Homo sapiens: one gene and its partners. The protein of the gene in region 2 purifies or fractionates together with the protein of the main gene of each other region. This does not show direct contact. Each region holds a gene or a part of one and is shown on either strand. Other genes may lie near its edges. The genes, in order: STK39, CSTL1, UBE2Q1, FZD3, PCDH7, GINM1 and NOCT.

Evidence for each region.
Region 1: the proteins of CSTL1 (region 2) and STK39 purify together in Homo sapiens (affinity purification with mass spectrometry; one large-scale study listed by BioGRID and IntAct). This does not show direct contact.
Region 3: the proteins of CSTL1 (region 2) and UBE2Q1 purify together in Homo sapiens (affinity purification with mass spectrometry; one large-scale study listed by BioGRID and IntAct). This does not show direct contact.
Region 4: the proteins of CSTL1 (region 2) and FZD3 purify together in Homo sapiens (affinity purification with mass spectrometry; one large-scale study listed by BioGRID and IntAct). This does not show direct contact.
Region 5: the proteins of CSTL1 (region 2) and PCDH7 purify together in Homo sapiens (affinity purification with mass spectrometry; one large-scale study listed by BioGRID and IntAct). This does not show direct contact.
Region 6: the proteins of CSTL1 (region 2) and GINM1 purify together in Homo sapiens (affinity purification with mass spectrometry; one large-scale study listed by BioGRID and IntAct). This does not show direct contact.
Region 7: the proteins of CSTL1 (region 2) and NOCT purify together in Homo sapiens (affinity purification with mass spectrometry; one large-scale study listed by BioGRID and IntAct). This does not show direct contact.

Annotation. Positions count from the first base shown.
Region 1 is NC_000002.12:168,160,092-168,164,303, reverse strand, and holds part of STK39 (STE20/SPS1-related proline-alanine-rich protein kinase), read left to right. Parts: intron 1-423; coding exon 424-565; intron 566-571; exon of another isoform or gene 572-582; coding exon of another isoform or gene 583-662; intron 663-2,461; coding exon 2,462-2,517; intron 2,518-4,212. UniProt on the Homo sapiens protein: Effector serine/threonine-protein kinase component of the WNK-SPAK/OSR1 kinase cascade, which is involved in various processes, such as ion transport, response to hypertonic stress and blood pressure.
Region 2 is NC_000020.11:23,442,105-23,445,562, forward strand, and holds the end of CSTL1 (cystatin-like 1 precursor), read left to right. Parts: intron 1-1,829; coding exon 1,830-1,940; intron 1,941-2,666; coding exon 2,667-2,774; 3' UTR 2,775-2,826; downstream 2,827-3,458.
Region 3 is NC_000001.11:154,551,637-154,555,848, forward strand, and holds part of UBE2Q1 (ubiquitin-conjugating enzyme E2 Q1), read right to left. Parts: intron 3,897-4,212; coding exon 3,792-3,896; intron 3,393-3,791; exon of another isoform or gene 3,150-3,392; coding exon 3,099-3,149; exon of another isoform or gene 3,014-3,098; intron 2,037-3,013; exon of another isoform or gene 1,973-2,036; intron 1,537-1,972; coding exon 1,396-1,536; intron 1,185-1,395; coding exon 1,100-1,184; intron 829-1,099; coding exon 768-828; intron 548-767; coding exon 457-547; intron 344-456; coding exon 285-343; intron 184-284; coding exon 135-183; intron 1-134. UniProt on the Homo sapiens protein: Catalyzes the covalent attachment of ubiquitin to other proteins. May be involved in hormonal homeostasis in females. Involved in regulation of B4GALT1 cell surface expression, B4GALT1-mediated cell adhesion to laminin and embryoid body formation.
Region 4 is NC_000008.11:28,570,320-28,574,531, forward strand, and holds the end of FZD3 (frizzled-3 isoform 1 precursor), read left to right. Parts: 3' UTR 1-3,939; downstream 3,940-4,212. UniProt on the Homo sapiens protein: Receptor for Wnt proteins.
Region 5 is NC_000004.12:30,726,358-30,730,569, forward strand, and holds part of PCDH7 (protocadherin-7 isoform d precursor), read left to right. Parts: intron 1-4,212.
Region 6 is NC_000006.12:149,575,923-149,580,134, reverse strand, and holds part of GINM1 (glycoprotein integral membrane protein 1 precursor), read right to left. Parts: intron 1,314-4,212; coding exon 1,162-1,313; intron 302-1,161; coding exon 145-301; intron 1-144.
Region 7 is NC_000004.12:139,018,551-139,022,762, forward strand, and holds part of NOCT (nocturnin), read left to right. Parts: intron 1-4,212. UniProt on the Homo sapiens protein: Phosphatase which catalyzes the conversion of NADP(+) to NAD(+) and of NADPH to NADH. Shows a small preference for NADPH over NADP(+). Represses translation and promotes degradation of target mRNA molecules.

The DNA of each region.
Region 1 (4,212 bases), on a different chromosome or scaffold from region 2:
TAGGTCCTCAAAGAGTGTGTTTTTTTTCTCTCAGCAGTTCACTTCTGCCTTTTCTCCTGGCCTCATACTCCTTTCTTTGTCAGTTCAGACTTTTTGCACCCTCTTTGGAGGGTTGCTCTTAGGAATTTTTGTGAGAAATACTGTAACCAGAAAAGGAACCAGCCATGGAACGGCCATGAACAGCCTTCTGGTCCCTGACCCAGAATCCTTCTCGTTAAATTCACACTGAAAGTGCTCTTGCAAACTTGGATTTAGTGTTTTTGGTCATGGGGCCCCCATTCAATTGTTTGTTTGCCTTGGGAATATTTGCATTAAATAAAGCCCATATTTTGATGTTTCTATTAAATTTTATACATAATGGAGTCTTGTTCTGAAAAGGTGATGAAGGTGCTTATGTTTTAATTCTTCTGTTTGTCTACTTAGGTTCAATGTTGGATATCATAAAATACATTGTCAACCGAGGAGAACACAAGAATGGAGTTCTGGAAGAGGCAATAATAGCAACAATTCTTAAAGAGGTTTTGGAAGGCTTAGACTATCTACACAGAAACGGTCAGATTCACAGGTATGACCTCTGCAGAGATGTTTAAATTCAGATGTTCATATCTTAAAGAGGTTTTGGAAGGCTTAGACTGTCTACACAGAAACGGTCAGATTCACAGGTGTGACCTCTGCAGAGATGTTTAAATTCAGATGTTCATATCTTCAGCCCTAGTTTGTAAAGAATGTTAAGGAAACACATGTTGCAGGCAGGTATTGACATTACTTTAACTTAGTCTAAATAGATGGGAAAAAAGTACTTAAGAAAGAAACAAGAGAATAAATTTTGATGAATTATATTGGTATCCTTGGGATTGCTTCAGTTGCTTTCACTGAAATAAGAGTGGAATCTAAAAAGGACTACATGGACTCATTTAAAAAGATCAGTTTTGGTAACTACTCTTGAATTATACTAGTTGAACTAGACAGCATCTCTATCTTTCTAATACAAGCAAGACTATCCAAACATTGTACTATGTGAATTATTTTTGATGTGGTGGTGAGAGGGAAGGAAGAGGTACTCATCTTCTTTTGTGACATAAAATGTTAATTCTTTACATAGTCAAATCACATAGAATATGAGTGCTTGATGTTTCAAGTGAGTGAGTGCTACTTGGGCTCTTAGGAATTATTGCAAGTAAATAGCCATTTACCAGTAATACTAATAATGTAATTCTCCTACCCTGAAATTTATATTTAATTATTTCTACTATATTTTTCTTTTTCTTTTTTTTTTTGAGACAGAGTCTTGCTCTGTTGCCCAGGCTGGAGTGCAATGGTGTGATCTCAGCTCACTGCAACCTCTGCCTCCCGAGTTCAAGCAATTCTCCTGTCTCAGCCTCCCGAGTAGCTGGGATTACAGGCATGCGGCACCATGCCTGGCTAATTTTTGTATTTTTAGTAGAGATGGGGTTCACCATGTTGGCCAGGCTGGACTGACACTCTTGATCCCAGATGATCTGCCCACCTTAGCCTCCCAAAGTGCTAGGATTACAGGCGTGAGCCACTGTGGCTGGCCTATATTTTTCAATAATTAGAAAAAAGTTACTTTAGAAATCAAATTTATAAATTGCAAGTTGTCATTTTTCAAAGTACTAAGATTACACAGGTTTTATACGGTGAAGAAATATAATATCTATTATTATAATTAGTATTTATAATCAGTCTCTCACCAGAGAGAAGTTCATTTTTCAGAAAGATAATTAAGTTGGAATTGCATCCCAAATTTAAGTGGAAGTAGAGGAGCTTTACATAGACTGGGCTTTAATACTTGGTAGAATGACAGTAGTGTGAGTTTATGGGCAGTGTCTAACTCTGAAGCATAAAATAGAGAGTCTATTTACTGATGATTTAATTAAATTTGGATAATTATTTCATAGAAAATATTTCTTTCTAAAATCCTAACTCTCCCCCACGAGTAAACTATAAAGTGACAGGTGGATCCTTATACCTTTTTTTTTTTTTTTTTTTTTTTTTTGAGACCAAGTTTCACTCTTGTTGCCCAGGCTGGAGTGCAGTGGCACGGTGTTGGCTCACTGCAGCCTCCACCTCCCAGGTTCAAGTGATTCTTCTGCCTCAGCCTCCCAAGTAGCTGGGATTACAGGCACCTGCCACCATGCCCAACTAATTTTTATATTTTTAGTAGAGATGGGGTTTCACCATTTTTTCCAGGCTGGTCTCGAACTCCTGACCTCAGGTGCTCCACCCACCTTGGCCTCCCAAAGTGCTGGGATTACAGGCGTGAGCCACTGTGCCCAGCCTATCCTTATAACTTTTAAAATCTGTGCTATTATCTTAATATTTATGAAATTATTATGTCAAAGAGCTGCGTTGTATGATATGTTTTAAAATCTTCCTGAGTGAATCAATACACTATAAAGTCTGTACCCTACAATTTATTTTCTATTTTTTTTTCTAATAGGGATTTGAAAGCTGGTAATATTCTTCTGGGTGAGGATGGTTCAGTACAAATAGCAGGTAAAGCTGATAAATAGAAAAATTTTTTACTTGATTACGGAAGTGTTACAGTTTCAAGGAATGTAGAATCATTCCTGAGAAATGAATAAATGCATGTAATCTCTTTTCAGAATGATATTTACAGAATGTTTGGGTCCGAAGGATAACATATTTTCCTTATTGTTTTGATAAGTCATTAGATCATCCTGTGAAAAATGCCATTTTAGTACATAGCTTTTTGATAAAGAATAATTTTATTTTCAATTTTATTATGTTTTCTACCTTTCACATTTTATAATGGTAATACTCATATAACTTCAAGAAATGCACTTGTAAAAACATTTTTCGATAGGTTTGAAAATTTAAAACATCATACACATCAATTAAAAACTAATTTATTTCTTAAGAGGTATCTGAAAGAATTGTGAACATTAAAAATCTGGGCCTTATTTTGTTTTTAACTCTGACCCAACATGGCTATTCTTGACAAAGCTGGTAGGCTGGGGATGCAATGAATGTCTTTTACATGAACACACAATATCAGGTGAGCACCTTTCGTGTTCAAAGCCTCTATTTTGTTATTGGCCCTAGAGTAACCTTAAAGGCCTGGGATAAGATGTAGCCACGCCCATATTAACTCTTGCTTTACCCATGTCGTTGAAAGTCTGTCTCAGCAATCCTTTTAGCTTTCATGGTTTCTTGGGGGAGTGTTCTTGGCATTTTTTGGCTAGACAGTCATTCCCTCTACTGGAGTGACCCTGTCATTGCAGAGACGCGTAAGATGAGCCCACTTGTACCCATCACCTAGTTTCAATAATTATCAATCTTTGGCAATTCTTGATTCATCTGCTGCCCCCCACCCCCACCCCCCGACTCTGGTGCCTCTCCTCATCGTGGAGGCTGGATTTTGTTGTTGAGCCATCTGAGTTAGTGCTTTGTGTGTGCATATCTTGTCCTCATGAGTGGACCTTATCCCATAGGCTAAGGACAGTTTGAAAAAGTACTTCAGTTAAACAAGTAACAGCTAAGAGACATCTGTGGGCAAAGATTTCAAACTGTCCAGCCCCAAGCAGTCTAGTTGTTCAGAGTGCAGGCTCTGGTGTCAGCTGACTTGATCGAAATTCTGAGGCCACCACTTAGTAGCTGTACCACCTTGGGCAAGTTACCAAACCTTCTTAAGACTCAGTTTCCTTAAAGAAGGGTAAAAATATAAACTACTTCATCTTCTTTCATGAAATCAAGGTCCAGTGATCTTAACAGTGGCCAACACATAATAGGCAAGCAGTAAATATCAATAACTGCTGTTCTACCATGGCTGCTGCTGCTACTGCTGTTGCTACTATTACTACTATTACTTCTGTTACTACGACTAACAGGATCACAGTGATACTCCCTTGCACTGACTGGAGATCATGTGACCCTCAAATTGTCCTGCAAGAGCTTCAGCTCTGAGGAGAGTTTATGACTTATCAAAAGGTAATACTTATTAATTATGGAATTTGGAAGCTAACTTGCCATTAATCTTGCTCTAAGATGATAAGGAAGTACAACTAATTTTCTGTTTTATGATGAAATGATGATTTCTCACTAAAAGGGTCAAAATAGCAGTGAACTGCCTTTGAAATGTGAAGGCTGGTCAGCCCCTGCCTTATTCTGTTACTTGGTCCTCTGCCAGTCATCTCATCCCATTATTCTTGTCAGATTAATGATCCGAGC
Region 2 (3,458 bases):
AGCTGTTAAGGAATAATGATGAGCATTTGATGTCATTCACATTGATAAGCAGACAGAGCAGGCGTGCCTCCTGGTAGCTGGGTGATCTTGGCATGGGCCTCTGGGCACCCCCACACCCATATGACCATTGTGTCTGTCCTTACACCTCACAGAGGGGACAAGAGCAGGCGTGGAGGGCTGCCAGGTGCCTCTGGGGGCTTCACGCCCAGCTCCTCCCAACTGAGGCTCCTGGTCAAGTGACATCCAGACTCTCCAGACCTCAGTTTCTTCACCTGCAAAGTGCCTCAGAATAGGAGGGAAGCACTTAGCACAGTGCCAACATCTGGTAGCACTTATAAAAAATCTTTGCTGTTATTATGACTACTCCTGTCATTATCGAACAAATAAGTCTAATAACGAATAACACTTTGCACACTGGAATGTCAGTTACAGTGATGACGGGTGGTTTAGTTTTTTCTTACATTCTGAGCATGCTGAAAGTCAGTGTGACCGTGCCTGGGGCAGCCCTGCAAATGCCCATGCATGGATGGCCCCCACATGTTTGGGTGCGGGGAGGCTGGTACTGCCCTCAGGTCTAGGCTCCCTGCTGCCCTGTCCCAGTGTTTGCTAAGGGTGTCTTCCTCCCAGGAGCAGTGTGGGCACTCTCTGCCTCAGTCACCACCCCAGAGATGACCAAGCCCTCTCACTGGGCTTGACCAGTGACAGGGCAAGGCAACAGGGAGCTTCCCAGAGCTTCTCCTGCACCGGTGAAGATCCACTAATCCACATATCTACTCAGGAATCCAGCTCAGAACCCGACAGGGAACCGTAACCCCCAAGCTCTCTGTTAGTCTCCCTTCTGGGCGTAGGGCCTCCCTGCCCACAAGGGCTTTTCCAGGCTCCAACCCCTGCAGGCTTCATGGCCTCACACTTGATCACAAGTGAAAGAGCCATGGGGAAATCCCTGGCATGCGTTCTCCATGGCTCGTGTACCCACCATGCCTCCTTCCTTCATTTCTGTACACGCTAGGAGGAAACTGGCATTATTCTCCTCATTTCCTAGATGAGGAAACTGAGATTCAGTAAAATTTACAGAGTCTGCAGGGGGTAAAGCCAGATTTTGTGTTCTGTCACTCTCCTAACACTGAATCTGCTTCAAAGTAACACTGCAGACACTTTGCTAAAAGATGTAATAACTTATAATTATGAAAATATTTAAAATTTATTTTATGCATTCAGGGAAATGCAAGCTTCCATTTAGCCCACATAACAACTCCAGAAGCAGGCACAATTGTGGTTTGTAGTTTGTAAGTGAAAAAGCTGAGGATGCTAAGTAACTTGCTCAAGGTCACAGTCACTAAATGGAAAATGCATGCCCCAAATCAATTCGATTCCAAAACTGTTTTTAACTGTATTGCTAAGCTGCCTTCCACTAGGTTGGTCAGGAAGGATAGTAGAGACAGAGGAAATGGCAGAAGGGACTGGGGGGGTGGGGACAAGATGCTGGCTCTGTTGCATTTTGAAGGCCACATCTGCCAGCCTGGGAGTGGCCTGTGGTGGCCAGGCAACCCAGCTTGATGTTGCCTCTTCTGTCCTGAGGATGGAACAGAGGCAGGTGAGAAGCTTTCTGTGGCTGCTGCAGCAAAACCAACCTATGACCAGGGGCTTTGGCTGCCATTGCCCTCCCTCCAGCCAGAAGTAAGGAGAAGGGAGCCATGCTTTTGGTGGGTAAGCTCCGCGAACAAGAACTGTGGCCCTGGGAGCTTTACTCTCAGTCCTAGCTTCTCCAGGAGAGGGTCAGCCACTGGATGCTTGGAGTCCACACTAACAGCACAACTGATTCTCGGCAGCTGACGACGGGAGTGGAGTATATAGTCACTGTGAAGATTGGCTGGACCAAATGCAAGAGGAATGACACGAGCAATTCTTCCTGCCCCCTGCAAAGCAAGAAGCTGAGAAAGGTGTGTAGTGGAAGTCATCCCAAAGGGACTTGTGAAGTGAATATTTTAAAAAGCAACAGCTAGAAGTTGGCAGTTTTGCCACTTGTGTGGATTGGGGCCAGCTGGGGCCCAGCCCTGGGGCTGTCTGGCACCTCCTGAGGCACCTGGGTGAAGGAGGGAGGCTTTATATTTGGGCTGGTACAGCCCTGCACCCAGGCCTCTGGTTGCCTGGACCCTTCTCCAACCTGGCCTGCTCCCCAGACCCTCTGCGTGAAAGCAGTGGTTCCCTTTCCTTGGGGTCCTTCTTCTGTCTTCTTTCTCCCTCTCCAGGTCTCTAAGGTTGTCCAATTTCCTCCTTGTTCCCTTCTATTTTTCCTGGTCCATGAGTGGCACCCCTTGAAAGCTGGCAGATACAAGGGGCTCCCCCATGCCTGGGGAGGTGCAGGAGGAGGTAACGATGCTATTGCTCCTTGCTGGCCTGCCTGGCCCACATGACAGGGTCCGGCCAGGCCATAGACTCCAGGTTCACCTGCTGTGGGTCCCAAGTGGCTGGGTAGGGGGAAGACAGGGTGACATTCCTGTTCCAGACTGGCACTCCTTTCTGTTTCTACCCTTGACTGTGGGCAGCTCCCCTCTCTGCCCATGGGGTTCATGAGCAGCCACAGGGAGAGACCTGGGGAACAGGTGCCTGTTGCTTGCCTTTGAAAAATACTTCCCCCAAAGTCTGTTTTCTTTCTTCTTCTACAGAGTTTAATTTGCGAGTCTTTGATATACACCATGCCCTGGATAAACTATTTCCAGCTCTGGAACAATTCCTGTCTGGAGGCCGAGCATGTGGGCAGAAACCTCAGATGAGGGCTCATATGATTGAGTTGTGCACTGGCTGTTATTAAACTGTAAAGGATCATGTCTCCCTCATTGGGGTCTTATTACACATGCACACACACACATGCACACACAGAGTGTACACGTACACACACTTGCACATACTTACCTTCACAACCCACACACACAATGCTCATACTCACGACACCCTCACACTCTCACCACTCACATACATGCACATTCACTTTAACAGCCTCACACACTCATCCACCCGCCCACCCACTCACTCCTACATGTCAAGCACATGCACACTCACTCGCACACACATTCAGTGGTCTTCAGGGGTTGGTGCAATCTTTTCTTTCTTTTCCTTTCTTTCTTTCTTTTTTTTTTTTTTTTTTGAGACACAGTCTTGCTCTGTTGCCCAGGCTGGAGAGAAGTGGCGCAATCACTGAAGCCTCCGCTAAAGTGGAGCTCACTGAAGCCTTGACTTCCCCGGGCTCAAGTGATTCTTTCACCTTAGCCTCCCAAGTAGCTGAGATTACAGGTGCACACCGCTTTGTCCAGCTAATTTTTTAAAACACTTTTTTTGTGGAGACAATATCTCCCTTTCTTGCCTAGGCTGGTCATGGACTCCTGGGCTCAAGTAATCCTCCTGCCTCAGTCTCCCAAAGTGTTGGGATTATAGGCGTGAGCTACCGCACCCACCCAGCT
Region 3 (4,212 bases), on a different chromosome or scaffold from region 2:
AGTGGGTGCAGACCCAGCCCAGCAGAATGAAAGGGCCACATCATGTCTATCACCCAGCCCGTAGGGGTGTGTGCTGTAAAGCTCAGACAATCCCCGCCCAGGCCGGCCTGGCCAAGGAGGAGAGACAGGCTCACCTGTTTGGTGAGAAGTTCCATGCAGATGGCCCCTCCGCCCAGAACATACCTGCATGAGAAAGGTTAGTCAGCTGTGCCTGACAAAATCTCCAAGTCTCTTCCCCGCCCTCTGCCAGAGGAGATGCCCTCTTCCGCATGCCAGCCACTCACCCTCCAGAGAGGACTGGAGACACAACCCTGACAAATGGTGGGTCAAAGGGAAAGTTATCCTGAGAGAGAGAGAGACGACAATCAGGGGAGGGAGGCCAGCATCCTCCACAGGACTGTCAGGCAGACTGGGCAGCCTAGGCCAGAGGGAGAGACTGGAAAAGAAAAGTCTTACTTTAAAGGAAAAGTTAAGTAGAATGAAGTCGGCTCCTTCTTTCTCTTTGAGGATCTGGAGATCGTTGTGCAAAGCGCTGTCCTGGTCAACTCTAAGAAGCAACAAGCCTGGGCTCAGATGCCTGGTTCCACCTCAGGAGCTTCATAAGGGCTCCCCTGCCCTGGCTGGCAGCAGACCACGAAACCACTGCCCACACCCGCTCCGGGACCCTGAATGAAAATGCTGGATGGGGCTGCCCTGGAGATCCCACCACAGTAGCCCCACTCACACTCCTCCTCAACTTCCTCTCCAATCCCAGAGTCCCCACTCACTTGAGGAGTTTGACATTCCAATCATACAGACTGTCATTCACGAGTTCGACTGCATAGTTTCCTGGAAGGAGGGAAAAAACAGGTGTTAGTAGAATGGTCCAGGTGGTGAGTGGTCTCTAATGCAGACCCCTTTCCCAGACTGAGAGAAAAAGATCAACAGCTCTAGGTTCACCACAGATGGACATGCAACCAAGCCACTGGCTTGAGGAGCTCCATTCTTGGCCTGAAAAGTTCATAAGCACTCCTGGACCCCAGAACCTCTTGGGCCCCTTGCCACCATACCCTTCTTTATGGGTGACTCTTGTGCAGGCCCCTCTCTGGGGCAAACTCACCGCCTTTGAAACTCTGTGATCGGTATATATCCCTGAGCTCCTTCATCAGCCGGTCAGTGGCCTGCACCGAGCCAGACACTGCACCCTGTGAGGGACGGATGACAGGAACATTCCTTGGTCGTGTGGTTTATAAACACACGTTAGACCTTAGGGGCAGTCTGGCAGCTTGCCCAGGATTTAAGAAAGGATTAGGCACAAAAAAGGAGTCTGCTCTCCATACTGAGATGCGATGGCCTACTACTTCCCAGCCATTTCCCACCAACCCCTTCACCAGCCTCTCTCTAGAAGGCACGTACATTTAAGTAATCTTGCCTCTGGTTCTTTTTAATTTTCTCTAGGATGGCCAAGTTTTCTTTTCCAATGCCATCATCTTCAGATTTCTTGCCCTCAGCTGGCTCTTCCTCTTTCATTTCATAGTGATCTAAGTCTTCTGTGTCCTGGAGGAGGTGTGGGGTGGGAGTGAAAAGAAAAGGAAAAAAACCGACACAGGTTAGAGAATGACCATCACCTTCCCAGTCCCATTTGGCGAAGAGCCAAAAGTTAAAGTGAAGCAGTCCATCTAGCAGTCTTATAAACGCAACGTGCTTTCCATTTTTAGAACAATTTCCAGCCCCATTCCCTCCACAGTCTAAATCTTCAGCTCTCAAGCTACAGCAAGGACTTCGGAAACGAGCAGAGCTGCAGCTGAGATCGAGGCAGGGACTTAGCCCTCTTGTTTCCTGGACTGACCCTGCTCCAACTGTTCCTAAAACTCCCTTGGCAGCAGAAACTCTTCCCTAATTCCTAGCAGAAATGACTTGGGCCTGACCCTGTGACTCAAAGCTCATGTTTCACCAGGTGACTATTGCACCCGGGAGTTCTCAGGGCCCCAAGCCTAAAGGAGAAACCTGAATCATTACATCTCCTCTCCTCGCTACAAATGCAAGGCATGAATCAGGTATGCAGAGGCACGCACTGCCAGATGGAAATGAGAAAGGATGTCCAGAGAGATATATGGAAGAGGTCAAGAACAGAATTAGCCCCTTATTCATCCTGCTCTAAGTGAGCAAGCAACTAGCTCACTGAGCATAGGGAAGGAGGAGAACCTATGTAGGGTTGAGCCCCTCAGCCAGATGTTGGGGGTGTGGCCCAGAGGGCTGTCCACTATCTGGGAGGAGTAAATTTCATGTCGTCAGCCCTTTGCCAGTCTCAAGAACCTTACACGGTTATAGAACCTGGGATATTAATCTAATGCTAGGAAATAAAAGTAATCAGAGTGATCTCCCCATTTCTGGCAGGACATACCTAATTACCACACCAGCAGGTAATGTCTACTGAGTGTTTATTACATGCCAGGTTCTGTCCTAGGTGCCGCAGATACTAGCTCATTTCATTCTTACCACCATCACTCATTATTCTATCATTATCCATTTTATAGATGCGGAAGCTGAGTCTAGTGAGGTCAATTATCATGCCCAAAGTCACAGCTCTTAGCAGAGCTAAGATTCAGTCAAGTTCTGTCTAGCTCTAAAGCTCAAATTCCTAACCATGATTTTATATTCTGTATGTTTTTAGAGAATATATCAGATAGATTGTTTAGCATTTATCATGTATCATCTGAAGCATTTTATATATAACACCTCATTTAATCTCAAGACAACCATATGCAGTAGGTATTATAATCCTACTTTATAGATAAGAAAACTGTAGCTTAGTGAGATTACATAAAATTCCTCAATTAGGATAGCTAGGATGCAAACACAGGTTTGTTGGACTCCAAAGCCATTTGAAATTAACTTACCCAGTATTTGGTTTGAACCGCGCTGCACCTGTCTTCAGTGGTTGGATATGGGTGCCCTGTCTCCTCTACTACACTGGCTATTCCTCCAGGTCAGTAAATCTGTCTTTATTCCTTTGATATTTTTCTCTCTCCAGTTTTAGACTGGAGTTCTGGATATGGGTACCAATGTTGCTGACTGCAAGAGCTTCCAGCCAATGCCACCTCAGGGGGCAAGCCTACCTCAGGCATCTCCTCATCTTCATCTTCTGAAGACACGTCTTCCTGTGTGCACTGCAGCAAGGAAGGGAAAGATGGAGATCAGAGCCCCAGTGGCTTGCTAGAATGCAGCCTCCAACCTACTCCCCTGAGCCCCCAGGTCTGGAAGTTGTGCGCCTGCCTGTAATGCTGCCAGTCTCTCCACCAGCCAGATCTGAGTGGAAGCAACAGCCCAGGGAATGGCTTTGCTACCAGCCCATTATTTTTCGCCTATCACTGCCAAAGAATAAAAGAAAAGCAAAATGGCTGTCTCTGTCACCCACCTCCTAAATCCTAGTTTAATTCTCCTAAGAACCCCTCCTTTACTTGATCTTCTTTAGACTGATATTGCATTCTTGGTTCTCACCAAGGGGCCTGGGTCCCCAGTGGCCACCAACTGTTATTGCTAAGATAATGGTAAAAATTCCCCCGCTCCCTTTCAACATCTGGGATGCTGCCCATGAGAATGAATTTTGATATCAGAGATGAAGCTACCAGTGCCCCATTTAGCAAAAGAAGATTCCCATCTGGAGAAGAACGAGGGTGAGAGTCATAAGACGTGTATGTTTTTGGGAGCCGGTGGGGATGGAGAGAAACTACTGATTTGTCTCAATTATTTACTGAGTACCCTGTGGGGCAACTCTGCACAACAGGGCCCGAGGCTCCTCAGCTGCTCACCTGCTCTGCTGGCAAGGGTTGATCCAGCATCTCCACATCTGGATGCTGAGGGAGGTTATAGAGTTTACACAGGTCGGAGATGATCCTCTTCAGATGCTGCAATAGCTACAGGTAGGGGAGCACAGAGACATCAAATCCTTCCCCACTCCGATCTGGATAAGTGCATGGATGAGCTCTTAGTTTGGGCCCCACACCAATAACTAGTTCTCTAAGCCTTATGGGCCACGTGGCTGTGGGAATGAGTCTCCTGATGGACCAATCCCAGGGCCGATGCAGGGTCTCCCTCTGGCTTCAGTAAGCAACTCCCCCGAGAGGTCATCCCCTAAATGTTTAGCTGTGTACCGTCCACTTTTCAGGATCCCTTTCACAGGATGCCTTTGTGGCATGGGCCTCATAAGAACAAAATGTACCCCTACCCTGT
Region 4 (4,212 bases), on a different chromosome or scaffold from region 2:
CTTCTGTACTAAAAATACAAAAATTAGCCAGGCGCAGTGGCTCACGCCTGTAATCCCAACACTTTGGGAGGCCGAGGCGGGCGGATCACGAGGTCAGGAGATCAAGACCGTCCTGGCTAACATGGTGAGACCCTGTCTCTACTAAAAACAAAAAAATTAGTTGGGCATGGTGGCGGGCACCTGTAGTCCCAGCCACTCGGGAGGCTGAGGCAGGAGAATGGCGTGAACCCGGGAGGCGGAGCTTGCAGTGAGCTGAGATCGCACCGCTGCACTCCAGCCTGGGCAACGGAGCGAGACTCTATCTCAAAAAAAAAAAAAGAAAAAAAAAAAAGTAGAGATTGCATTAGTTCCATATCTCCGCAGAGTTCTCTGGTAGATTAAATGTTCTCTGTGCACTAGGCCAAGGAAGTTCCTGTTACCTTTGAAAATCATTGTGTTTGCTCTGATTGTCTACATTAGCTCATATCAGTCTTTTGAACACTGGTTCAAATCTGGGTGTTGGGTTAGGATCTGATGAGTAGAGAATAGTGGAAAGTTGATATAGGAAGGTATACTGGTTTCTGGTGTGATTCTTTAGCTACATTTATTCCTTGTCTTATGTCATTTCACTGGATCATGTAACTGTCCTGGCTTTCAGAAATTATATTAGATGCCCAGCCTTTCTCATTCAGAGATGCCTGTATTATTATGTTATTTCGATTGCCTACCAAAAAAAAAAAAAAAAGAAAAGGTTTGTTTTTAGTTCTCTGCCTCTGCAAGTCTTTGTGATCACATTTGTTAAATTGAATCTGAGATTCAAATATTTCATTTAATATTTTCTGGGTTTTGATAATGGGATATTCTGTAAGATAAAGCAAGTAATCCTAGAGTGATTTACTTTATGTTTAGCCATCCACCATTTTCCTATTTCTCTACTCCTCCCATTCTCCATTTTTAAAAGGAAATTAACAAATGTCTTCCTTTATCCCTGCCTCAGATAATTTTTCCCTGAACTCATCTTGTCAGCAGAAACATTTAATGTGAAATAATTCTGTATTTCTGAGACAAGATCAACACAGTAGTTCTTTACATTGAGCTGAGGTGAATGTATACTTAAAAATACTCTATTTTCTTTTTATATGAACTTAAAATTTTTAAAATCATATATGGGACTCCCCAATGTGAAAATATTAGTCTGGACATTCTCTTGCCATCAGGTGCTATTTCTACCTTAGCTGTGAGTTAGACTAAATCCAAATTTCGTATCATTCATCTTTTTATAATATTTAACTTCCCTAGAATCACCCCATTTCATGTCTTTAACCCCAACTTCCAACAACTTTTCTGCTTTTATTTTCAAATGTCAAATTGTATTTTTGTGTTTTATTTTCTCATTGAAGTGTAAAAGTATCACATATATGAAGGAATGGCTGGTTTAGACATTTACTTTGGCATAGTAAAGATTGATATTGATACCACCCACCATCCTTTCCTCTAGCCCCAGAAAGAAAAGTTTGACAACTCAAAAACGATTAAATTATCTTATCTTGTTATTTAATAGAACAATGGAAGCTGTTTCGTCAAAATTAAAATACTTTACCAAAAAAATACTTTTTTGTATTTTAATCTGATAGTGAATTTGGGGATTATTTATGTAAATGTATCATAATTAATAGTAATTATGAGTTATTTCACTCTCTGTAATTTGTGATACCCAAGATTCATATTTATTTAATGTGAGGTGTTTTTTGAGGCTTTTTTGTTTTATCTTGTTTTCTTAACTTTTTACAGTGTTGTTAGATTATCGCGGTCATCTCGGCATGTGGATCGCTCCTCCTGTAGATCAGCTGTTCTCTCTTAGAGTCAGGACAAGGAGGTTTTTGCTACATGGTCGTAGTTGGATAATACAGCATTATTCTGAACTATCTGAAATTGCTGGTTTTATTGGTCAAAAATGATCAGATGCTAGCAATTTCATAATAGATATATTCAAGAAGGAACCAAACTTTAAAAGATCTTTTAGAATAGGTATGTTAACTTCTCATCCTAACCCTATCAATATATCAGAGGCTTTATGAAGGAGACTCTACAGATAACCACAAATCTTATCAAGAAAATTCTCCTTAAAAAAAGTTATCCTTTATTTTGTTGTTAAATTTCCCAGTTTTTAAAAGTGTTTTATCAAAATGACTTCATAATTGAAGCAAATACCTTTTGGAAGTATATATGTTACATAAGACTTTCACTAAATCTGTGCGTAAAGCTTTTATAATCTGAGATATTGTTATGTATTAGGTTTGTGCAAACCTAATATAAAAGGGTTCATCTGTAAGTATCATTTAGAGGCAAAATAATTTCCCCCTCACATCTAATGTGGACTCAAATTTTGGCAACTGGAATGTTATCCTCTTGGTAGGCATTCTAAATTAATGAATACTGCTATGTGGTGTAGTAAACAAATTTGCCATAAAATGCCATTTAAGGATTTTCTTTTTACCTTTATTTCATTATAAAAGTATATGAGTTGAAGATCATATAAAAAATATGAAACTCCTACACAGGAAATCCCCAATTTTGTGATTTAATAGGTTGTAAAAAGAGTTGTTCCAAATTCAGACTACATCTCATCATATAAATAATATTATGAATAATAAGGGTAAAAGATTAGCCAACAAAAGCTAATCTAGTACACCCCATAGAGGTACTCCAGGTGTCTTGGTTTTGGATAAATTTTTATAGTGGAGAAAGGTTACTTTGATCTCTCAATAATTGCTTGGTACACTTCTTCCTAGGCAATATGCTCATGATACCCTCTTCATGTGACCTATTCCTCAAATGCTGCATTCTCCAAAACTTCCTTACCTGCCTTCTATCCCCTAGTCATTCTTATCAATACTTCCAAAATATAACCTATCTCAAGTGTTAGAAATTTGCTTTAACTAATTTATATTAAAGTGTTAGTGACTATAGCCCTTTTATCTCTCTTAAAGAGAAATCTGCATTAAAAGCAAACACATTGCTGTTAGCTCAAATTAATGTCAGTGAGTAGAATCTTAAGCTTTAAAACAAAAGTGGAAATAATTTAAATTAGTGTTGATGGGACTATTTTGAGGCAAGAGATACCATTAAGTGACCTAGCTTGGAAATCTGCCCCCTTTGCCCAAACCCATGTGATGTCTGAAACTACTGTATATTTTCAATGACCTTGAGAAAGGGAGCTAGTCATTTGTATTTATGGGCCTTATGAAGTCAGGGCCTGCTGATCCTGTTTTTTAAGTTCAAGCGCAATGCCTGAAGCATCCTAGATCTCCTTCACCCTCATTCTACCTGACAGACAGCTAGGTCTGTCTTCCAGCTCTTTCTCATTGATACTACCTTTACATATGAATACTATCCATGCTTGTTAAAAAAAAAAAAAGTCTTTCCCCATTTTACTGTTACAATTTTTCAAGAGCTATAAAGGTAGAAAAAGTATTCCTTTTCATTATTCTAAAAAATATGTCATTTTTAAATAGCTGGCACTTAGCAGTTTAGTTTTCCAAACTTTATTCTGAATCAAATTGCTGAGGTGATTCTAAATGTCTAATGTTGATTTATCATATAAACATCTAATTAGAAAGTGTTTATGCTAAAGACTTGTATTTTGTGGCATTAGTTCTTCATGTTTCTTTTTTATATGTTTATTAAAATTGTTCACTTCCAAATGAGTGGAAAAGTTGCTGTTGTTGGGATGTACAGGGCAAGTGCACTTGGTTAGAGCATGAACTGGGAATTTCACATTCTCTGATGTGCTTTGCACTCTGCTCTTGTAGATTTATTTTGTTTACAGTAGACTGATGTCAGTTTTTGTAAATGTTTTTTCTTAGCACTTTAACTGTGAGTGTACAAACTGATTTTAAATGTAGTGGTTGTATATTTTGGTTATAAATTGGAGATTTTTAATAAAATTAAATAATTCTCTTTTCTGTCATTAGTACCTGATTAATTATAATTTTCTTTGTCATCTTCCAGACCCTTTAAACAGTCTATTTAACACTACTGCACTGCATTTTTAAATGTTTTCATATTGTAAGTTTTTCATATAATAATGTAGGAATCATAGGAGTCTGCCACATAGAAATAAACACACACCATCCTATATTATATCCCTTTTTTCTCATACTTGTTTTGTCAATGCAGATAAAACCCATCTCTGTTCATTGTTATATCTTCAGCACATTACGCTATTAGACA
Region 5 (4,212 bases), on a different chromosome or scaffold from region 2:
TTTGCGTTCTAAATTGTGTAATCTTATGCTTTTGAATGGACATATCAAGTGACACTTTTATGGATATTTTATGCAAACACTTCATATGTTCTGTGCTGTTACTTAAGCTTCATTTGGCTCATCAGATGAGGTTAGCTCTATATGCTTGAATATTTAAAACAGCTAATATCAAGACTGTTGGCATCCTGTTTAAAAGGCAAAGTGATATGCTTATAAATAAACTAATATATGGTGTTAGCCTTTTAACTGAGTAAAGAAGTCCACATTCCAAAAGAGAAAACCCTCAAAGCAATTGGAATGAATCACACAGTTTGCCAAAAGTGACTTTGGAAAACTTTTCTGTCATTACATATTCAAAAGAAGTATACACTTTTAACCCCAAGTAAATAGCTGACCTAAAATGAAATAAAGGCAGATGAAACACATTCCCCTTAATGTAATTAGTAATAGTAATTGATATGTTTCATCTCCTCAATATTGCTGTCAGGGGACAAGGGATCCATTTACAAAGTTACATTCCGTTTTGACATCTGACATAAATGGGATCCTTTTTGTTCTGCTTTTTGTTTGTGCCATAAGTAGACAATTTCCTATTTTTATTTTTAAAATATATGACCTTTAATTTTTACAGAACTGCCAAAATATATTTTCTTTGATTAAACCTGATGTTATAAAAGAAAAAAAGAGAATTCAGGGTTTCGCGGGAATTTCCTTCTTTTGATAAATGGATTTATCTAAGGTAAAACTAGACTGTTGTATTCTTTCAATTCCATACAGCAGGGTCTAATTTAAAAATTGAGATTTCATTTTACATTCATTTTATTTATAGTTTTCCTGAATTGCCTTATTGCAGTTATTTATTTGTGAAAAAATTAAAGTGATGTTTCTTAAGAGTGTTCTTATCTTCATGAAAATTAGACATTTTAAAGTGTTGAACCTAAGTCCTGTTGTTTTCATTATAATAGGTTAAACAGCTTTGTAGAAATGAAAGTTTGTAAATAATACTCTCCCTTAACTGCTTACTTTTTGTTTTGTTTACATAGACTTGAGAGCCATTCAAATCAAGCTTCTATGGCAGACTCTAGGAAATGTGTGTGGTAGAGTTGCTGGAATTATTTCCGAAATTCACACTTTAGAAAAACTCACTGATGATGTAGCCCAAATTTTCATAGTTCATACCTTTGCATTTCAAACAAAAGCCTTTGCTCTCAGCTAAATAATGTGTTTAGCTGAGCAAAATGTGGATCATTGACAGCATGATTGAGATTAAGTATCCACCTTTCTGTTTCATTCTTCCTTGGTAAACCTGGTCTTGGTAGTTGTTAAACTTTTGTGAACTAGAAGTACAACTGTGTTTTTCATTCATAACATAAAGGCATACGCATTCTATTTTTCTGTTTATTTTTAAGTCTCTGGTATTTTACTATGTGCTAAGCATTTTTCAATTTTCTTTTAAAATAATGTAATCCCCCCAAAGAGTGATAGTATGAAAAGTACAGTTACTATTTTGCTTATTATTCTTGAATTCTATTGAGCTTATCCTTGATAGGCTGTTATTTAGATAATGCACTTACAAGTAAAAATTTTATTGTATTTAGTAAATGGAAAGTAAGGTAATTTATTTTTGGCAAGAGCTTAGTTTGAATAAACATCCATTTTAAAATCCACTTGCAGCTGATCCTGAAATACAAAAAATTTACATTAACTTCAGTGACAGTTTCAGTTTGTCTTCATAATGTTCTCTTTAGTGATCGAATTATGTTCAATATATTCATTGTATACCTAGTGAAAAAATTTGGGAGAATTTTTTAATTGCTTCAATTTTGGAAGCAAATGGTTGACTTGCTGTCATCTATTAAGCAATAAGAAAACTAAATGTCAATTCATTTGTGTGTGTGTGTGTGTGTATACATACATATGTATATATATATATATATATAGAGAGAGAGAGAGAGAGAGAGAGAGCATATATATATATTCTTTAGTGGAAATGCATCTACATAGTGATGCCAACCATAGCTTCCAGTGCTCATTCTGTAAGCATAATTTTTACAATGTTTTTCTCCTGTCTATAACCAAGGATGTTTTCATAAGGCACAATGAATCTGCATATGTTGTAATTTCCGTTACATTTGGCCTGATACCATAGGCAAAACACTAATAGCTGATGGAAGTTAGGCTGTGTCTTTAGTCATCTAGTAAAGCAACACTATCTGGATCTCTGGATGTCTATGAAATAAGGAAAAGGTCATCCATTGATTTGATCCGCAATGAATTTGCAAATTTATATGGAAGTCCACATGATTATTTGAATCTTATCCAAAACTTATCCTAAACCAATTAATGACTTAGATGTAAGACCACAAAGTCAGTTTAAATATTTTAATGAGCCATCTAGTACAATAAATATGGCAAAATCATTTTTTCTTATCCTTCTATCTTTGAGTAATTACATATCTCGTATGTGAAAAAGTGTGAACATGGTTTATATCACAAACTCTGTACACACAGAGACATATACACACATATTAGTGTATACCATTTATAGCTGTATTAGTCTTTTATTTAGTCATGATGTTTATAGATTAATATGTGAAAAATATCTAAGCTTAAACATACACAATGTTGAAATAAAATATACTATAATCAACAGCTTAATGACTGTACATGAAATCACTAGCATCATCACATTTTAGAATTACAAGGTGTCAAACAGTCCCCTCATTTTAATAGAAGAGGAGACTGAGGCCCAGCATGAAACAGTGACTTGATTGGGATTACAAAATTGTCAGGGATATAATGTGGACTAGAGTCCAAGTTATGGAATGTAGTGTCCAGTATTCTTATTTATCTGATCATACTACCTTTGGGGGAAAAAAACTGAATTTCTGTAACTTTCTGTGTGTGTATTTCAATTGCAGTAGAAATCTGTTGAAATTTACTTACTTATTTATGACTATATATTTGGCTATGAAGATTGACATCTTTACAATAGACTATAATTCTGCTTTAGGCTCCAGTTCTTCTGTGTAAAATTATCTGGGAAAATATAATTCAAAATTTACAGAATTTTAAAGAAGTTAATAATTCTTTTCCCTCATGTAGGATTGTAATTGATAACATAGAGTAAAGCATCTTAACATGGTTAAGAACATATATTCTGTTGACAGAATTTTTAATATTAGCAGAACAATGATAACAGACATAAGTTCCTTCCTAGCAATTAGTATATTTCAATAAAAATTCATTTAAATAGAAAAGAATTAAAACATTCTACACATTATGTATGAAACTTTTTATGCATTCTAATTGTGATAATCTTTTACCTTTTTCATCAATATTGATAATTACTTTTGACTTCTGGGCTTGTGTGCATTTTATCAACTTTGCACATACATTTTATTTTAGTAGCATCCTTAACACACAGTCATGCACGAATGTTTTCTCTTAATTTGTTTTCTAGCAAGTTTTTAGAAGAATATGACATTTTGTTAACTTTCAATTGGATTGCTTCCTTGTTAGGCAGTTAACCAATCTAGTGTACTAGATTCTAAATTTGCACAGTGATAAAATATAAATTATTGAATCTATTAATTTTAAAAATAAAATCTGAACTATTTTAAAAACTAAATATAGTGTGACAAAGCCATTACTTCAACACAGCAATCTACTCTATTAAACATTTTAACATCTTTTCTTTCCTGGGAGGATGTGGTGGTGGAGATTATGTAGGAGATTTAGTATAATTATATACAGTATTTTAAATATATATATAACTTTAAATATATAACATGACTTTGTTTAGAATAGTCATGTATAAAGAGTGTATAATCGATTTCTAGACTATGGCAAGGTTTCCCATTCATTTATTTACTATGACTCTATAGAAATAGTAAGAGCTGTTCCCATATATCTAGAGTAAGCTTTGCTTTTCTTAGTTTTTTTAAAAAAACCCATAGAATCTTTTCTAAAGCAGTGACTCTTTTGCGGTACATTACACTGTGCTTTATTTAGCATTAGTGTTGTGGGAAAAATCACATTCTAAGAAGAATTGAGCTGAAACCACTAAAACTAATCTTAATTATCACTTCTGGTGAATTAATGTTTTAAAGGCGGAATCAAGGTTTATTTTCAGGAATGTAGTGATGTTTGTATTGAACTCTAATGCTGTGTACAAACAAAAAGCTATTAAAGCTCCCAGGTAGGATTCCT
Region 6 (4,212 bases), on a different chromosome or scaffold from region 2:
GCTCATTTCCAAACATATTAACTATTAAAGATAAATAGCAACTTTTGCAAATAGTGTAAAAAATAACAAAGTTCAAGAGTATATAAAGCTACCAACTAAATAAATAATCTCCTTAATACTTTAAATAATGGTCTTTTAAGTTACCTTTTTTGGAGAGGTTAGGAAGGGTAAATAAAATGTCACTGTCTCGAGAAATAGAGTAGAGCATGCTTTCTTCCAAAGGGAGGGTATAGTTTGAATGTCTGAGTACTCCCCGGTTCTTAACTAAAATATCAATTTCAGTGACATCCTTTTGCTGAACCTGTGAAAGAAAATATAATTATTCTTTATTTTAAATAGTAGCACAGCCCCATAAAAATTTAAAAGCAAATTTTCCTCCCAGATTTATATAACTAAAACATGTGTCCTATTCAGACAATTACTCTTTTTTTTTTTTTTTGAGATGGAGTTTCGCTCTTGTTGTTGCCCAGGCTGGAGTGCAATGGTGCGATCTCAGCTTGCCGCAACCTCCGCCTTCTGGGTTCAAGCGATTCTCCTGCCTCAGCCTCCCGAGTAGCTAGGATTACAGGCATGCGCCACCATGCCCAGCTAACTTTGTATTTTTAGTAGAGACAAGGAGTTTCTCCATGTTGGTCAGGCTGGTCTAGAACTCCTGACCTCAGGTGATTCGTCCACCTTGGCCTCCCAAAGTGCTGGGATTACAGGTGTGAGCCACCATGCCCAGCTAACAATTACTATTTATTTCCCCGTACTCCCACTTTGGGGCACTTAACTTGCAACTTTAATAATATTCCTGTCCTGCTTTAACACTTACTATTATAAGCTTAATCTCGATTCTACTTCATTTACACACAGAGACTTCATTTACCATAGAGGAAATGGTAGCAGAACTATGAGCCAAATTGAATCTCTTTGCTTACTTTCTATTTAATAATGTCTGTACATTTTAAAGTGATACAAACATGTATGAATATGGGAAATTTTAAAAATACATTTCAAATGCTAAAATAAATATACAAAAATTCTAAATAATTGGATATAGGCAACATTAGGCACCTTCCTTATCAAGTCGGAAACAAATAAAATAACTGAACACATGCATAATATCTAGCACAAATCTAAATATCATTTAATTCCCAATTAATAAACATACTATCTTACTTGTTTTCCATCAATCTCTACTACCTCTTCTTGAATGACAATTAGTTGCAAACTGGAACCAGATGTCATAGGCCACTCATGAACTAAAATCCTTACACTGACAATTCCAAAATATTCTTTTTCCTCCAAATTTTCAAGATTTTCATTCTTCACTATAAAAAAAAAAGTAGTGACACCTTTGAACAAAGATTACCACCAAATCTGTGAGTGAGTGTGATTATTTTGATGACATTTACATGGAACAAGACAGTTGAAAACCCATTTCTTTGGCTTTCTTCATCCCTGACCTCAATGCTGTTTCAGATTTATTAAAAACAAAGACAATCTGACAAATCTTTATGACTGCTTACACTCATTTGAAAGGGTAAAATGTGTTGATCTTTAGACTTTGTATGAAATACCACACTAGCAACATCTTTCCTATTCTTTTTTTTTTTTTTTTTTTTTTGAGATGGAGTCTTGCTCTGTCGCCCAGGCTGGAGTGCAGTGGTGCCACCTTGGCTCACTGCAACCTTTGCCTCCTGGGTTCAAGGGATTCTCCTGCCTCAGCCTCCCAAGTAGCTGGGTTTACAGGCTTGCACCACCATGCTCAGCTGTTTTTTTGTATTTTTAGCAGAGATAGGGTTTCACCATATTGGCCGGGCTGGTCTTGCTAACTCCTGACCTCAAGTGATTCACCCACCTTGGCTGCCCAAAGTGCTGGGATTACAGGCGTGAACGACCACGCCTGGCCCATCTTTCCTATTCTTTTATACAGGTTGGCCATGAGGAACCAACATGGCACAACTATAAAGCCAGCCAGAAGATACAGCCAATCCCACGTTTTAACATAATAAGCACATACATTCATCCATCCACAAAATCCTGTGAGAGAAGATGCCCAAGCAGTAAGAACATTGAGTTTTTTAATCAATCCTTTCCCCGATTAGTGACTCATTACTATTAGAGAGAGCAGGAATGGGGAAAGAGGGTGGGGGAGGCCTGTCATTTCTCTCTGGTAATCGATAATGGGGTAGGACTAGCTATTGTCCACGTTCTTCTCTAGCTAGGAAACCTCTACTCCTGCTCCAGTAGAAACGGGGTGTAGTAGCTGCAGCTGGTTTACAGAGCCAACGGCTACTCTATTAAGGTAGAAGTGCTATCGAAAAAGATAAAACAACATACACCAATGCACCTGTCACAGATGGAGCATTTTATTTCTATCCCTCAAATAATCTGAAGATTTTTGCCAAACAGGAATCCAGATATACAATCTGAATGCACACCCAGCTGTTTAGTCTGATTCTGTGCATCTATAGGGCTACTTCCTTTGTCTGGAATATCTCAATATCTAGTTCATTAACTACTTACTATTACAAGATATACCTACCTATTCTCCCCTGCTTTAGTCCCCGCCGCCAAACCATTCAGACAACATGCCAAGCTCGTCTCACTGTGACGTGGTTTTCAGTCCACAGCCTCCTGCTCACACACCTTTAGTGGCACTTCTGTGAAGTTCCCGGTCCTCTCACTGGTCCTCCTCAGGCTCCTCATCTGGCCCCTCGCTGCTCCTCTCTCTAGTGTGCCTAATCCTTCATGCCCTTTGAAAAGCACCACTGTCAAAGGTACCCCCTCTCTCATGGTCCATCCCCGTGTTTTAACTGACCATTACCACCCGTGGGTCTCCTTCGTGGAACAGCAGGCGCTGTGTCAGCATGTCCGTAAGCCCAAAGACTAAGGTACAGGAGACTCAATGGGTGAGAAAATGCAGTCATAAAAATACACCCAAGTGGCAATTCTTCAGCCTGCAAATTTGGTACCTGATATAGTTTGGATGTTCCCCGCAAATCTCATGTTGAGATGTAATTCCCAATGTTGGAGGCGGGGCCTGGTGGGAGATGTTTGGGCCATGGGGGCAGATCCCTCATGGCTTGGGGTTACGGCACCCCACTGCCACTCTTGCTCTCTCTTGCTCCTGCTCTGCCATGTGAGATACTGGCTCCCCCTTTGCCTTCCACCATGAGTAAAAGCTTCCTGACGCCTCCTTAGAAGCTGAGCAGATGCTGGTGCCATGCTTCCTGTACAGCCTGCAGAACCATGAGCCAATTAAACCTCTTTTCTTTATAAATTACCCAGTCTCAGGTATTTCTTTATAGCAATGTGAGAAGAGCCTCATACAGTACCTCTAATACAGCATAAAATTAAATAAAAAACAACAAAGCCCTTCATATTGACTTCCTTACTGTGGTAGGCGGCTTTCAAAAATGCCCCTCAATGACCCTTGCCTCTAAGGAGTCAGACATTTCTGCAATTCCTCCCTCAAGTGGGCTGGACCTAGTGACTAGTCAGTTAGTTACCTATCTATCTATCGATCTATGAATGATTTTTTTTTCTTTTTTTGTTCTTTTGAAAGAGACAGCCTTGCTATCTTGCCTAGGCTGGTCTTGAACTCCTGGCCTCAAGTGATCCTCCAGCCTTAGCCTCCCAAATAGCTGGGATTACAGGCATGAGCCAATGCACACAGCCTAGTGACTCGTTTCTAACAAACAGAGCATAGCCCAAGTGATGGAATGTTACTGCCACAATTAGATTATTAATGGCTATGACTTCTGTCTTGCTAGTACTCTTTTTCTTACTGGCAGTCTCTCTTGTCCTCTCGATGAAGCTAGTTGCCATGTTGTGAGATGCTCTATGGGGAGCTTCGTGTGACAAGGAACTGAGGAAGACCTTCAACCAACATCTGGTGAGGAACTGAGGCCTCAGTTCAAGAGCTCAGAAGGAACTGACTCCTGCCAACAACCACATGAGTGAGCTGGGAAGCAGATTTTTCCCAGCTGAGCCCTGACGTGATGGCAGCCTTTTGAGAACCACAGGACCCTGCTAAGCCAAGCTCAGATTCTCGACCTACAGAAACTATGAAATAATAAATATTGTCTTAGGCCACTGATTTCTGGGTTAAACTGTTATGCAGCAATAAACAAATACACCAACTAAAGAAAAAGTTTCTTTAAAGAATTAAAGAAGATTTGTTGTTGTTGCTGCATTTAATGTTTTGAAGATTCTTGCTGTAAC
Region 7 (4,212 bases), on a different chromosome or scaffold from region 2:
TCATGCATTTTTAGCTTCAGCAGCTTGTTGGAAGAAACATGCCTGCATTGATTCATTCATTGCTTGTTCACTCATTCCAGATCTTTACAGAATGTCTCACACAATGTAGGTGCTTTATTATGGGAGTTAAAAACATGAGCTTTAGTCAGTCCCTAAGGAGTTTACTGCCCAGTAAGAGATGAGATTTGCACAATGAAATGGCTGTTTAATGAAATGAAACACCTTTTATTCTCTTGACTTGGAAATGGCACAAGGGTGCAGGAAAGCAGGAAGTCCCTTTTGGGCTTCTAGAAATGGGTGGCATTTCAGCTGGCTCTTGAAGCATGGTTAGGATTGGAAGAGATTACTATAAAGCGTTTTGTTTGGAAAAAGCAGGAGTAAATGCAGAAAGGCATGAGACACACACAGATGAGGAAGGGTGAGAGAAGAGGCACTTTGCAAAAATGGACATTGTTTTCCAAAGAGCCTCAGACCCAGCACTAAGTGCTTTTTAATTTTAATTTTTATTTTTATTTTTTTTGAGACAAGGTTCTCTCGCACTGTTGCCCAGGATGGAGTGTAGTGGCGCCACCTCTGCTCACTGCAACCTCCACCTCCCAGGCTCAAGCAGTTCTCCTGTCTCAGCCTCCTGAGCAGCTGTGACTACAGGCACACGCCACTGTGCCGGGCTAATTTTTGTATTTAGTAGAGACAGGATTTCAACGTGTTGCCCGGGCTCGTCTCAAACTCCCCAGCTCTGGTGATCCACCTGCTTTGGCCTTCCAAAGTGCTGGGATTACAGGTGTGAGCCACTGCGCCCAGCCTATGAAGTGCTTTTTTAAAATGCAGATTCTTGGATCCTACTGTAGACCTATTAAGTCTGAGTCATTCATGATGGGCCCTGGATTCCACATAACCAAATGAAATGACAAAAAGAATAACTCCAGATTGTTCTTCTATGCCCTCAAATTTGGACATCTGGCACCCATATGTGAGAGAGACATTGAAGGGGCCAAAAGCTCCTCTCCACTCCTGAGCCTTGTGGTGGGGAGTAGTGAGTCCCGACAGCTGTCCACATTTGCTAATCAGTTCCTGCATAACTTATGCCCCTTGGCAATTGGTAGTTATTGGGAAGATAAGTACAGTCCCTTTGGAGTTATCAGATTCCAGGTTGTTAGAATTAAAAGGTGACCCTAGGGATGATCTCGGTGTTTGGCTTTCTTTTCTCAAGGATAGCAGCCCCCCTAAGAAGTAGCAGTTGCCACAGTTACTGTACTGGATGAAACGCAGTTGGAAGTCATCTGTGGATTTATAAATGCTATCCTCCACATCCCTCCTCCTCAGAGAATGAAGAGCTGGCTGAACTACTGTTCTCTACCATTAGAACATTTGCTTTTTTTCATGGTACAATTTATAGGCAAATGCCACCAGCTCATTTGAGAAGGCAGCTTTATTTAATATGTCCTTTAACTATGTGAGTAAACTGCTTATGAGAGAGAAGAAACGGGAAAGCTTGTCATTATCAAGCTGCTATGGAATAAATTGCTTTCCTTGTGGGAAAACTAATGTATGATTTTTCTGTTAGCATTCAATGGCAACAGTTTAAACATGGTGAACTGGGGTTCTTTGGGGTTAATAACCATGGCTCCAGATTCACATTCCACACACTTAACATTTGTAAATCATTTAACCTTGCTTGCTGTCTCAACACTAGACTTTACCTAGAACAAATGAATAAGATCAATTGATAGCAATTTATCCACAAGCTTTATTGAATAGTACATGTAAAAGGTGACATGACTAATTGCAGTGGGAGTTGAGAAGAAAGAAATCAGTGTGGCTGAATTTGTCAAGAAATGCTTTGCTTCTAATAGGTGAAAAAGGAGGGTGTTTTGGAAGGGGACAGTTTGCGGGGTGGTGGGGGCAGGCAGAGAAGACCACACACACAATGCCTGGAAGAAGGTGGCGCTCGCATGCAGGAGCTGTGGCAAGCATCTTAGGAAAAGGGGTAGAGGCAGAATCATTTGGGACAGTTGTTAAAATGCAGATTTCTGGCCTTTCAGCCCTCTGCTTGATCAGTTTCCTGTGGAGAAGCCCGGTGGAGTGCATATTTAACAAGTGCCTCAGGGGATTCTTCCAAAAAGATTAGGGAGTATTTATGAGCTCTGCCCCTCCTTTCCCCAAAGGTACTTATTCCTGGAAAGCTTGAGAAGCTCTGGAGAGGATTCTGGAAGAGCCTTAAGACCTTTGGTCTGGCCGGGCACAGTGGTTCACGCCTGTAATCCCAGCACTTTGGGAGGCCGAGGTGCGGATCACTTGAACTGAGGCATTCAAGACCAGCCTGGGCAACATGGTGAAACCCTGTCTCTACTTACATTAGAAAAAAAATAGCCAAGTGTGGTGGTGCACACCTGTACATCCCAGCTGCTTCGGAAACTGAGGCAGGAGAATCACTTGAACCCAGGAGGCGGAGGTATCAGTGAGCCGAGATTGCGCCATTGCACTCCAGCCTGGGCGACAGTAGGAGCAATACTCTGTCTCAAAAAAAAAAAAAAAAAAAGGATCTTTGAGCTTGGGGCCTAAGGCAGTTCAAGAGACCCCTGAGAAAGAACATTGACCCCCGAAAAAAGCAGCTTTAAAAAATTGTATATTTTGTCGAGACGGGTTTTGCCGTGTTGCCCAGGCTGGTCTCGAAATCCTGGGCTCAAGCAATCCTCCCGCCTCAGCCATCCAAAAGTGCTGAGATTACAGGCATGAGCCATCACGCCCCGCCAAAAGCAGCTTTTAAGAAAGGGAAGAAATTCCAGGGCCGGGCACAGTGGCTCAAGCCTGTAATCCCAGCACTTTGGGAGGCCAAGGCAGGCGGATCACCTGAGGTCGGGAGTTCGAGACCAGCCTGACCAACATGGAGAAACCCCATTTCTACTAAAAATACAAAATGAGCTGGGCGTGGTGGCACGCACCTGTAATCCCAGCTACTCTCAAAGAAAAAAAAAAGGGAAGAAATTTGCATATTAATGAAAGTTCAGTGAGAGGAAACTTGAGACTGAGGTTGTAATGGGAGTGTATCCATGTAGTCACTCTAAGTCACAACTTAGAGTAAAATGAGGTTTCTATGATGTTTACTAAAAGAAAAGTGAGGTAATTGTGTTCTGGCTTCTTGGAGTTAGGAAGGGAGATACAGCGTCTGTATTTGCTGTCAGGAGTCACTGGTGACTAATTACAGTTTTTCTGGTTTTTTTTTTTTTTAGACAGTTTTGCTCTTGTTGCCCAGGCTGGAGTGCAGTGGCGCAATCTTGGCTCACTGCAACCTGTGCCTCCCGGGTTCAAGCAATTCTCCTGCCTCAGCCTCCCAAGTAGCTGGGACTACAGGCATGCGCCACCATGCCCGGCTAATTTTTTTGTATTTAGTAGAGACAGGGTTTCACCATGTTGGTCAGGCTCCTCTCGAACTCCTGACCTCAGGTGATACACCCGCCTTGGCCTCCCAGAGTGCTGGGATTACAGGTGTGAGCCACCACGCCCGGCCACTAATTAGAGTTTATAGGGCTTTGATAGCCACTTAAGTGGTGGTTATACTTCAGTAGATAATTAGAAATTTGAAGGACAGTGTGCCTGGGCGTTTAGCCTCATAGTAAACCTGTTTGGACTTCCACGGAAAGCAGCTAAGATACTTTTTATTTATTGTTATTCTTAGAATGGGAGAAAATCAGCCTTCCCACGGAGGGAGTGAGACCTCAAGTGAAAACCTTAGCTGTCCTCTGTATCTATGTGGCCTCAAAGCAACACTTGAATCATATATTAATACTTAGCAAGAATTCAGTGTCAGGTATGTGGGCAACAGTGCCCAGGGGAAAGAAGGCTAAACAAAATTGGTACCATCCAATTTGAATGTCCTTATAACAATTTTTTTCTCCTTCCAGTATATAAAAAAATGCGTGGGTCCCATTCAGATCTTCTGGATTTTAATATCTCCAAGTGGGGCCTGAGCATCTGCTGATTCTGACATAGGCTCCGGGTAGACAACAGCCACATATTGACAACACAGGCGGACACCTGTGAGGAGGCTCGTTTTACTAAATGCTTAGAAGCCTATTCTAAGTCTCTCAGTGATGTGATTCTCCTGTCCAAAAGTTAGAGACCACTGTTGGATTGTGGAGAGTTGTGCAGAAAGGAAAATATTTATTTTATTTATTGTAGAGACAGGGTCTCACTGTGTTGCCCAGGCTGCTC